Linked DNA regions of Homo sapiens: region 1 is linked to region 2. The links come from fine-mapping of genetic effects on gene expression. Tissue or cell type: whole blood. Region 2 holds a variant in brackets; the other region holds the start of a gene. All regions are shown on one strand. Distances are between the middles of the regions.

The links. PIP is the estimated chance that this variant, and not a neighbour inherited with it, causes the effect.
Region 1: ACP3 starts here. The variant in region 2 is fine-mapped to the expression of ACP3 in whole blood (INTERVAL, PIP 0.95).

Annotation. Positions count from the first base shown.
Region 1 is chr3:132,314,537-132,320,615 of GRCh38, forward strand. ACP3 (acid phosphatase 3) reads left to right here and starts at 2,871. Exons shown (of 10, transcript NM_001099.5): 1 at 2,871-3,040. The coding sequence starts at 2,921.
Region 2 is chr3:132,345,206-132,351,284 of GRCh38, forward strand. ACP3 (acid phosphatase 3) reads left to right here. Exons shown (of 10, transcript NM_001099.5): 8 at 4,715-4,797. Among named protein-coding and RNA genes, the nearest start is that of ACP3, 31 kb to the left of the region's middle. The variant T/C (reference allele first, on the strand shown) is at 3,344.

The DNA.
Region 1 (6,079 bases), 31 kb before region 2:
TGCAAAGACCTTATTGAGTTCAAAGTTCAAGGTGCCACAGAACATTCTAAAACAGGTTTCATCTGAGTTGAGGATCTTTTACACTCCATTTCATGGTGTTCAGGTTTTTCAAGACTCTACATTTATGACTTTGAATACTTCTTCTCCCCTTATAACTGAATGATCAAAGTGGAAGTGAGGATGATGATTGAGATAGAAGTATAAACCATTTAATTCAACTTGGATTAAGTTTGAGTTGAGATGTATTCAATTCAAGCAGGCTTTTTCTGGTTTTCAAAGAAAACTTTGTTGTTGTTGCCCTTCTCACTTGAAGAGCTAAAAGGACCCCACAGGCGGTACCACAGAAAAAATTAGGGTCTAGGTCAGAAAGAGGGTTTATCCAACCAGTGCAACATGGTATAGGTAGATTATAAAATCAGTCTTCATTATCAGGAAGGTCTAAGGCTATTGCTGAAATAGTTCCAAGCACCAGTCCAAGGGTGAGACAAGGAAGGAGATAGAACAAGGACCCAGGCAGATAGCTGAGAAAATAAGGCATTCAATAGAAGCAGACATCTGGCACAATTTAAGAAATGTGGTTCAGAAATTTGCCTGTGAATGGTACATAGGTGCTGGAGCTTCCTTTCTCAGATTGCCTGGTGCACACAGCAGGGATTAATGTATCAACTTCATGTATGCCCTGGACTGGAAAACCTCCCAATTTTTATTTCCTTTTTCTTGCACCCATTTCCTCAAAATCTTACTCATTAAAATTGACAGTGTAGACTGGCAGGTCGAGAATGTGATGGCAAAGAGAAAGTTGCAAGTTCCCTTGAATGGTTAATCCTAATCACACATGCATTTATTATTTGCACATTTTTTTTTTTTTTTGGAGGGGGGACAGAGTCTCACTCTATTGCCCAGGCTAGAGTGCAGTGGTGTGATCTCAGCTCACTGCAACCTCAGCCTCCCGGATTCAAGTGATTCTCCTGCCCCAGCCTCCCAGGTAGCTGGGATTACAGGCTCCCACCACCACACCTGGCTAATTTTTGTATTTTTAGTAGATATGGGGTTTCACCACATTGACCAGGCTGGTCTCGAACTCCTGATCTCAAGTGATCTGCCCACCTCAGCCTCCCAAAGTGGTGGGATTACAGGCGTGAGCCACCATGCCCAGCCTATTTGCGCATGTTTCCTACTGCCGGAAGAAGGAACAGTTCTCCCATATACCACATTCCAGGGCATCCTATGATCACATAAGAACACAATCCTCCTGCCACAGGTAAGCGCAATGTACCAGGAAACAGGTTGCGGGTAAACCATTGTTCTCCCTCTGCCATTATGATAGAAATATCATGACAGGCAGCTCTGCCCCCAAATCTTGCAAAATCTCAATGTGCACCTCAAGTTTGTATTGTTTTAGCCTATGATGGAACTGACAGGTTGGGGAAAATGGAAAGCAAAGTTCCATCAGTCTGGATCGCCTTTTGTAGTGTCCCCAGTGAGATCATAGCTGGAGAGGCAAGGATGTAACTCACTCAAAATTTAAGGCTTATGGCCAAAGTTGATGACTAATAATATAGAATTGTAGGTTTGGGCTTTTTGCTTTCTTAAAAAACTCTGTCAGGTTTGGAAAGGGACCTCCAATCTAATTTTGAGATACCACAGGTAATGTCCAATTGTCTTAAGGTGTGACTAAAATTTTTCTTTTGTTTGTTTTTTGTTGTTGTTTGTTTGTTTTGCTGTGTTTTGAGATGGAGTCTTGCTCTGTCACTCAGGCTGGAGTGCAGTGGCACAATCTCGGCTCACTGCAACCTCCACCTCCTGGGTTCAAGTGACTCTCCTGCCTCGCCTCCCAGGTAGCTGGGACTATAGGCATGTGCCACCACGCCAGGCTAATTTTTTTTTTTTGTATTTTTAGTAGAGATGGGGTTTCACCATGCTGGCCAGGCTGGTCTTAACTCCTGACCTCAAGTGATCTGCCCACCTCGGCCTCCCAAAGTGCTGGGATTACAGACATGAGCCACCACGCCCAGCCTAAAATTTTTCAAAATAAACTTGCTGTTACTTTTCTTCTTTAATTTAAAAATACCTCTATAGGCTACATGAGAGTTTTTGAAAAAGTAGCCATGTTTGGCATGGAAATAGGCCCCAAATATGTCAACACCTGTATTTCCTTCCAGATTTCAGTCCTATAACTTTGGACTCCCAACAGATTAAGAATCACTGGTCTAAGGTTTCTAAAGTCAGGGTAGATCCCTTTCCCAAGTGACAGCCACAAATCCAACGCTGTATCATACCCTATCTAAAGAAAAGATAAAAGTAAACTGGCTTGGCACAGTGGCTCATGCCTGTAATCTCAGCACTTTGGGAGGCCAAGGCAGGCGGATCATGCGGTTAGGAGTTGGAGACCAGCCTAACCAACATGGTGAAACCCCGTCTCTACTAAAAATACAAAAATTCGCCGGGTGTGGTGGTGCACGCCTGTAATCCCAGCTACTCAGGAAGACTGAAGCAGGAGAATTGCTTGAACCTGGGAGGCGGAGTTTGCAGTGAGCTGAGATTGTGCCACTGTGCTCCAGCCTGGATGACAGAGCAAGACTCTGTCTCAAAAAAAAAAAAACAAAAAACAAAGATAAAAGTAAACTGAAAACAAGGATAGAAATGTCTGCTAACATGCTCTGTGACCTTGATCAACAGCTTTCCCCGCTCTTGGCCTTGGTGTCCTAACTTAAATGGGGAAACTGTGATCTCTCTCAGCTCAAAATTTACATGACATTATTTACATACCAAACCTGCCCTACGCTTCCTGGAAACTTTACTACTTATGAGTGTGGCTCCTCCTTCCCTTTCAATCCCTTAATTAAATAGCTTCCCCTCTACAGGCTTTTGAAGTGGTAGCAGTTCCTCCTAACTCCTGCCAGAAACAGCTCTCCTCAACATGAGAGCTGCACCCCTCCTCCTGGCCAGGGCAGCAAGCCTTAGCCTTGGCTTCTTGTTTCTGCTTTTTTTCTGGCTAGACCGAAGTGTACTAGCCAAGGAGTTGAAGTTTGTGACTTTGGTAAGTAGACTTTTCTCATTGCTTTTTCCTTAAAACTGTGTTCCCAGCAAAGTCTGATAAGGCAAGCGTCAGGTTTCATCTTATCCTTGGATTGTTTCCCAGAGACCAGGCTCTGTTCAAACTCAGAAAGTGAATAATCAAGTTTTGCAAGTTCCTCTTAATGAAGACCTAACGTGTCCTAACAAAAATATTTTTTGGTCGCTGTTTTTTTAGGGGTTGCTTTTTATTTGCTTTTGCTGATGTTATTTATTTACTTACTTTACAACTGCCTTGAATTCAGATTCCTTTTGACAGCCACACCAGTCCAGAAGAAACCACAGCTGGCGCTGTTTATGTACCAAGAGCTGGCTTCATTCAATTTAATCATTATTTGTTTGCAAGCCAAAAAACAGTCATTTTCTGAATTAAGTAGTCCTTTCACCTTTGTTTATCAGGAAATTAGAACAACTATTTGTAAACAACCTTGAAGCATAAAAGTGAATCTAAATTTGGAATTTTAGGATGATTTTCTGATATATAGATTTAGTTGACGATTAAAATCATTGGCACATGTGACCAGTTATGAAAAAAGGTGGGGGGTGGCTGATGCATAATATCAAGAAAAGAAAATATACTGTTGACATTGTTTGAAAATAGATGGAAAGAGGGTTTGCAAAGTGAAGGGGATTCATCATGTTACCTAAGAGTCTGATTTTCTGTTTCTGTATCTTTTTTTCCTTCTGTTTCACTCTTTCTCTGCCTCTAAGCCTCTAAGCTGCTTCTTGCCTTTCCTCTCTCGTTTTCTTTCTCTTCCCTACATTTTTTTATTTGAGATAGTGAAAGTGGGCTGATAAGTAGGTAAATTTTCTTTCTGTCAAGAATACTCAAAAATTATTTTTATAATTTGAAGGAAAGTCACTGTTTCCTTAAAAATTAAAGTTCAGGCTTTTTTTTTTTTCAGCATGGGATATTCAAAGCTCTTTACTTTCTACAGAAAATATGATACCCATGTGCTTATTTGAATCATTATTCTTATAGTCCAGTAAATCCTTACTAGGTCATGAGTCAACAATGACAGAAAACCCAGTGAAACAAACTATCAATTTATTTACAAATGATTCACCAGCTGTCAGACTTCTGTGCAGAAAAAAAATATATAATACTGTGTGCCTTCTTTAGGGAAACCCATGTGAGCTAGGCTTGTACTTCTATCAGTAGTTTTCTTGCTAACATGTGCATGAGGCAAGTTTAGGGACTGTAGAAATTGTACTGCATCTGCCGTGCTTGTAATACTGTAAACCTGTGACAAGCTGGTTGAGTGGCAGTCCTCTGAGAAATCCAAGTTACTCCAAGCTCACTGTACATGATGTATTCCCTCCTCCATGTTTTACCCAAGTTAGCCCAGGCTAACTTCCTTTGACTACCAAATTGTTGTGGGTTTCCTATATTCAGGGACTGCAAGTTAATTCTTTCCTGAGGAAAGCCAAAATACAAAGCTAGCTCTCTTAGAACTAAAAAAATTAACAAATATTGCACAAAGCCAGTGTTAACTATTTTTTCCTACCATGATTTCCTTCCATTAATGGTAGATGAAGGGCCATTTAATACATCTTTCTTGGCCCTTATAAAACAACGTCCATCTAAGTACTTAAGCCAATAAACATCAGTTTCTTATTTTTATTGACTAAAGAGAATATTTGACTATAAGTGGTTAATTTATACAAATGAGATAACTCTTAGAAAATTATTAGGAGAACCAGAATTGTTTTAAAAGATGCCCATAACTAAAGTGGTAATATTAATGATAATAACCAATAGTCAATTGAGTGCTTACTGCAAGTACTTACTGCAATTGAGTGCTTACAAGGCACTGTTCTGAGTGTTCAATATGAATTGTATCACATAAGCCTGTCAACAATCCTCTAAAATAAGGTCGTTAAATAAAATATGGGATGACCATTTGAATTTGAACTTCAGATAAATAGCAAATAATTTTTTAGTCCCATGCAATATTTGGGCATCCTGTATGTTTATTTGCCAAATCTGGCAACCATTCTATAAAGTTTTGTAAAACTTATTATTCCTATTTTATAGATGAAGAAATTGAGGCACAAAAAGGTTAAGCATCTTGCCCATGGTCACACAGATGGAATGGTGGAGACAGAATTTGAACCCAGGCTCTCTGACCCCGGATGCCTTTCCCTTTATCACTAGACATGGTCTTTTCCTGCTGTGTGTATATAACCCAGCACATGGAGCTAGTCTGAGATCCCCCTGTAAGGTTTGCTGGATTAGCTTGACTCTGAATCAGCAGGTGGTTCCCTTGCTTTTCCTCTGTGATCCGAGAAAAATAAATCCTCCCCAATTCTGAAAAGCTGTTCTCAGCAGAAAGAGGAGGAAACTGTCCTTGGTTCTTGTTCTCGGACTAACTGAAGTGCCTGTGACCCATGAAATGCTAGTTTGACAAGTTGTTAACAGGTGTACATGGGGAAAAAATCAGTTTCAATAGTCAAGTTAGCTTTGGGAATAGAACTGGGTTAAACTGTGTTTAAAAGGTCTCTTTAATGCAGTAATCCTAAGTCTTTAACATGCTAATACGCACTGTGGCTTTCAAGGAAAGGATCTAGTGTTTTCCAAACTCTGTTTTCAAAATTTTGATTACAGCATTCACCTCCCTCTTTTTTTCCCCAATGTCCTGTAGAAAACACTGAGAGAACTGACATTTTTAACTTTATATGGAAAGAATCGTAAATATGGTGAATCTGGATGTCCTCATCAACCAGCTTCAAAGACTATCACCCATGCAATCTTGTTTCATCTGCATAGCCACTCATTTCCCACACACACCCACTTGAGTTTTTTAAGTTATTTCATGCACCATATCATCCAGAAATAGAAAAATGTCATTTTAAAGCATCCTGTCTCCCCTAACCCAGAGAAAACCCACAAGTTCAGCTGATCCAAGACAGAAAAATTCCATCTCATTTCACCGGTGTTAAGAAAGGAATGATGACTTACAAGGTATACACTCTTCTCATTCTTCATGGTTGACTTTCTTCA
Region 2 (6,079 bases):
TTAATGATACCTACTTCATAGACAGTGAGTATTAAAATGAATGTATGTATTCAAATGGCTTAGAGCAAACAGTACCTGGTACATAATACACTGTCAATAAATGTCATATGTTAGTATAATCATAACTATTACTCACTCAAGCCCTTAGTTTTCTATCTGGAAAATGAAAGCTAAAGCTAAATGATCCTTTCCATCCCCTCCAGATCAAAAATCAAGGATCTGTGTCTGAGCCACATGAAAATCAATTGTGTCTTGTGGCCTATATGATGAATTTTTCAAGTGGGAGGTATGACAAAAGTGGCCTGTTTTCCTGAAACCCTGAGTGGTAGTCATTGTGAAAGCCGATAAAATATATTTTTCAGGCTAATTGTTATATTTTTCAGACCAATTATGTGCTGTTAAAATATGTTGCAATTGACAAGTTTATAACACAGCTTGAAATTTTTCATTGACATTGAAAGCTGTTGAGATTTATTTATCAGTGATGCCTCTTCTTGGTTAGAACTGGCTCTTCGTAGCACAGGACACCCTGTCATATGAAGGCAGACCCAGGCAAGAGGATGCTGGATTCTTGTAATCAGGATAAGTGGATGGAAGAAAAAAGTCAGGACCAGCAAAGACAAGGACAGATGTTGGGGCTTATGAGAGAAACTGGATGGGCAGGCCAAGATACCAAATGAGGTGTCAGACTTAGATGTGGTTATCATAGGTATTAAAACTAGGGATAAAGAAGAAGAGAAAGTTCATCATGTCAGGTTGACGTAATGAGGAAAGTCCAAGCCACAGGAGATGGTCCAAGTCAGGCTGACACACATATTCAAGGCATTTTGAGATTAATACAATCACATCATGATTCCAGCCATTGACAGACACTATTCACCACAGCATCAGGACAAGTCCATCAAAATCCCAAGAGAATGCATAGAGGCAAAGCATATTAGGGCTGGACCAGACTGGGAGGTTGTTCACTGAGGCTACTTAACTAGGGAAAAAATTCAAATCACTGACCAGAAAAGGAATCAATTATAGCTAGAAAAGCAGGGCTGCACACCAGGTATAAAGAGTGAGGCAAGCTGTAACCAGGGGAATGAGGTATGAAACCAGGATGGTCAGGAGCAAATTCATGTGAGATGAATAAAGTAGGTTGGGGCAAAAAATTTAGGACAGTGGCCATTAACGACATGAGGTTGTTGTAGATCTGCTATTACAAAAATCCTGATTGCATGGCACAGAGACAGACTTGATAGAAATGTGCAAGTCCTTACTTCACATTAAACACATGAGCAACAAGATCCAGCCTTGAGGAAGGGAGAGTCTCCAGAGAGGAGTCTTAGATGGAAGCTGGAGTGTTGGAAAAAATTACCAGGCGGGATACAGACTGTGTCTATGGGCAGAACCCAGGAAGAAGCTCAATCTTAAGTGCTTAACAACAAAAGATGTAGAGGGTGCCTTGGAAGCCACATAAGCACTCAGCCTCATTTCTGGCCCACCAGGTGCCAGCAGTGTGACTCAGTTGCAAGCCCCATCAAATGGTGGAAGCGGGACTCTTGATTTATTTCCCCCAACCTAGTTATGGTGGATTCAGGCACCTAGTCCCTCACAACTCAAAGTGCAGTCTACTTTTCAGCATCGGCATCAACTACCACCTGGCTAGAAACACAGGCCCCACTCCCAAACGAGTTGAATCAGGATCTGCATTTGAATAAAATCCCAACATGCTTTATACCAGACAGGAGTTGACAGTAGTCTAATAGTAGATGTAGGGATGTGTATGTATGAATAAGAAATGGAGTTGCTCCACTTTCCTCATGTTTCCTCTTTTATTTCCCTTGCCTACTAGAAGATTACATTTGGGAGAAGCCACTTCCCCTCTCTGGATCTCTGTTTCACTACCTATGAGGAGATTAAACTAGACTGTCTATAAGAGTCCTTCTCTGAGTTGTTCTCTGATCTTGGATTCTAAAGGCTGGCACTTGTATGAAACCAGCTGTCCTGCTTTCTGGAAAAAGTCCAGCGCCATTGTTAAGCAGGAAAATTTCTCCTGTGTGGTTCTGCCAAAACAAAAGCTCAGACTATTATTCAGATCTGGCTGGGCAAGAGAGATTTGTCAACTACATGTTTATTGAATGATGAAACAGCTGCACACATTCCTGCACAGAAAACACACATTGTCTAGGTGACAAAGAGTAATGTGGACACATCAGGGCCATCTTCTGACCTTTGCTAGTTTTTTTGTTAGTTTGTTTTGTTTTTGTTTCTTTGTATTTTTTGTTTGTTTTTGTGTCTGTTTTTGAGACAGGGTCTCATTCTGTCCTCCAGGCTGGAGTGCAGCAGCATGATCACGGCTCACTGTAGCCTTGACCTCCCAGGCTCAAGCGATCCTCCCACCTCAGACTCCCAAGTAGCTGGGACTACAGTCATGCACCACCATGCCCAGCTAAATTTTTTTTAAATTTTTTGCAAAGACAGGGTCTCCTTATGTTGCCCAGGCTAGTCTTGAACTCCTGGGCTCAAGCGATCCTCCACCTTGGCCTCCCAAAGTTCTGGGATTATAGGCATGAACTACTGTGCCCAGTCTAGAATTTTTATTTCATCATTTAACTTCAGGGGTGACACTGTTCAGTAAGACACACACACATACACACACACACACACACACACACACACCAAAAAAATCCCTGGGGCAAATTTAGGATCATATGGCTGGTCATATCAGTGAAAAGAGAGCTCTTCTTGCTCTAGGCCAGAGGTTGGCAAACTACTGCCTGTATGCCTAATCCAGCCCACTACCTGGTTTTGTAAATAAAGTTTTATTGAAATACAGCCACACTCATTCATTTATGCATTGTCTATTGCTGCTTTCATGCTACCACCGCAGAGCTGAGTAGTTGCAACAGATTTTTTAACCCACAAAGCCTAAGACATTTACTCTCTGGACTTTTACAGAAAAGTTTGCCAACCTCTGCTGTAGACTAGAAATGAAGGAAGCAAAGTTTATGTCTTCAGGTCAATGATATTTTTGTCTAGTTTACGAAGATTTAATAAAGGATACAACAGATAACTTTGAAGCTAGCTTTCCACGATAGCATGTTCTAATGATTACAAATAAAGGTTTTGACACAGGACATGCTAGATTTAAAGCCCTCCTTCTCTGCTTGCAAGTTGTATAATCTAATCAAGTTTCTGAGCCTCTCCAAGCCTCAGTTTCCCCTATAAAACAGAATATTGATATGCCAGAGCCTGAGGATAATCATGATAGTCACCCCTAATCACTCCTGGGATAAGGGTGTAATCATACCAGAACCAAGAACTGATATATTCATGACCAAAACTGCAGCCTGAC[T/C]AAAAGGCACTTGTTGACAAAGGGCAACTTGCTGATTTCAGGTGGCTGTCATGGCTCCCAAAAGCTTGGCCACAGAGTTTAGCACCAACATGGCATGTGAATCAAGCTAAAGTCCCTAATGCATTCCACAGGGCAACCCTCTCTGAGATGGAGGGATTTAGACCTGTTAGACATGTACATTCAGATTATCCTATTCATCCTCAAGGAATTTCCAGTATCTTATAGAAAGAGCAGATACCTACCTCCTTAATTAACCCTTTTTTATACTTACTGGTGTACAGACCTGTCTCTTCTTACTATTTTATGAGTTTTTGGAGGGCAGGGACCAGGTCTGATTCTCCTAGCACAGTATCTGGCGCATCATAGCTGCTCAGTGTGTGTTTGTTGAGTGGACTACAGAACCTGAGATTATAGTCAATCTGTTAATATCAATGCCCTGCTCATTACAACTCACACACACACACACCCTAACACACCCTACTGGTCATTCTCAGCCAAGAGAGCACATGATGCAGGGTAAAGAGACCAACAGAGACACCAGATAGTTACAGACATCTCTGAAGCAACATGTCCTTAAAACAGGATCTGTTTTGGCACCACAAGGTACCCCACAGCCCTCAGTGCCTAGAAATAGGATAAATACTGTAAGCTCTATATCTGTCTTTCACCACCTCAGGAGCAACAGCAGTTAGGTGTTCAGATGTGAAGTGTGAAGAGCAAAAGTTTCCTCTACTGAAGACAGACAGAAACTCAAATGAAAGCTAAAGATGCTGGCTGTCCCCCCAATAGTGACACCTAGGGTAACCTGGAGAAATGGTCCACAGAGAATAGTCCATGATCTGTACAAACATCCAGAGAGCTGCTTTCTCCCATGGCCTCCCACAGGTCTGACTGCCAGAGAGTAGAAGCAAGAGGGGTGAAAATAGAGGAGTACCTGCTGTGCTGTCATTTCAGGTCTGCTCTGGAGAAGAACATGGGCTAAGAATTATCTTTTATGATCTGAAAAAGCTGTCTGAAGTTCCTTCCAAGCTTATCAGCCTCCTAACCTGAGCTTTAACAAAACCCGGTATGGTAGAGTCCTAGTGTGCCAATCCAGCTTTCCTTACCTGGCTGTGTGAGTCACTTAATATCTTTGGACTTAAGATTCCTTACCTAAAAATGAGGGTTGAGACGTAGGATTCAGTTTAAAAAAAAAAAAGTATGTAAATCACATTACCTAGCACAGAGCAGATGCTCAATAAAATTAGATCTTTGCCCCTCTTCTTAAGTCATGGCAGGGAGAGTCCGCAACTATGAAGTGACAAAAAGCTAATGAACTAAAATAGAAGCTTATGTTTGGTTCAGTTTGGTTATTGATTCATCTTCTTTAAGGTGTCCTGGTCAATGAAATCCTCAATCACATGAAGAGAGCAACTCAGATACCAAGCTACAAAAAACTCATCATGTATTCTGCGGTAAGTATTTTCATCTTCATTTAACATATGTTTGTTCAAGTGTGTGATCTCTTGAAGCACAGGACCTCATCTTTTTTTAATCTTCATTTCCCCATCTCCTTGTACGTGGTAGGCACTTGCACAAAGCTTTTAGAATTAAATGCATCATTCTGTCCTTTAAGGGATTTATAATCTAAACTAACAAGAAGACAAACATAAACACTATACAAAATGGGATGGAAATACCATGCAGGCAAGTGCTATGGCACCTCAGAAAATCTAGCCATCCCTTCTGTTCCAAGAGGGTGGAGAAGAGAAGCAGAAAGGCTTCCTAGACAAGGCAGCACATCCAACACATCAAAATGAAAGGGGTTAGTAAGTGCTCCTCACTAGTGTGTAGGACAAATAAAGTAAATTATTAGGACAGAAGTGGAAGGCCAGGAATGTTGTGTCCAAAAAGTGGTACCAAATTAGTGGATGTTAACTGTGCTGCTCAATATGGAACCTAGTAGCCAGAAGTAGCTACTTACATTTAAATTAATTATGATTAAGTAGAATGAAAAATTAAGTCCCTCGGTTGTATTAGCCACATTTCAGGTGTTCAATAGCCATATATAGCCAGTGGCTACTGAATTGGAGAGCACAGATATACAACATCTCCATCATCATGGAAGGTTTTTTAGATAGCCCTGATATGGAGTGTCAGAAGTTTATGCTGGATGGCAGCTGAAGGGCCATGTTGTCCTGCTGCTTCTTTGTTTAATTGTAGAAAGAAGCAAGGAAGCAAGGGAGAACCCCCCTGTCAGTGTTTGCTCAGGGAAGGCAGGGCAGGAGTGACAGGATAGGAGCAGCATTTTGGAAATTAATTATTTTATAGAATAACTGGATGTTGGGAACAGGATATGGTGTAGAAAGCTTTTGTGATAGTCTAGAAAAATGGGGATATGGCCTAAAATTAGGGCAGCGGCAGGAGAGGAAAAGAAGTGAGCCAGGTTACAAGAAAAGCTGAGTGTGCATTCTCAGTGATGAATTGGAAGTGGGTGGAAGACAATGATGTGGAAGGTGAAGCCCCAGATGAAGTCAAGATTTCAGTTTTCAGTGGCAGGAAGGAGGTGGTCTTGGGCCAGGCAAATGTACTGATTAGGCAATGGGTTTGAAATGCCACAGGGGCATCCCAGCAGAAAACTTCAGATGGCAAAGAGAATAGAAGGAGGAAAGGGAAGAAGGACTGCAACTCAAAGTTGGAGCTACATTTGGGAGTAGAAAGAAAAGAGAGCAAGAGATCTTAGAAAAGGCTTTCATC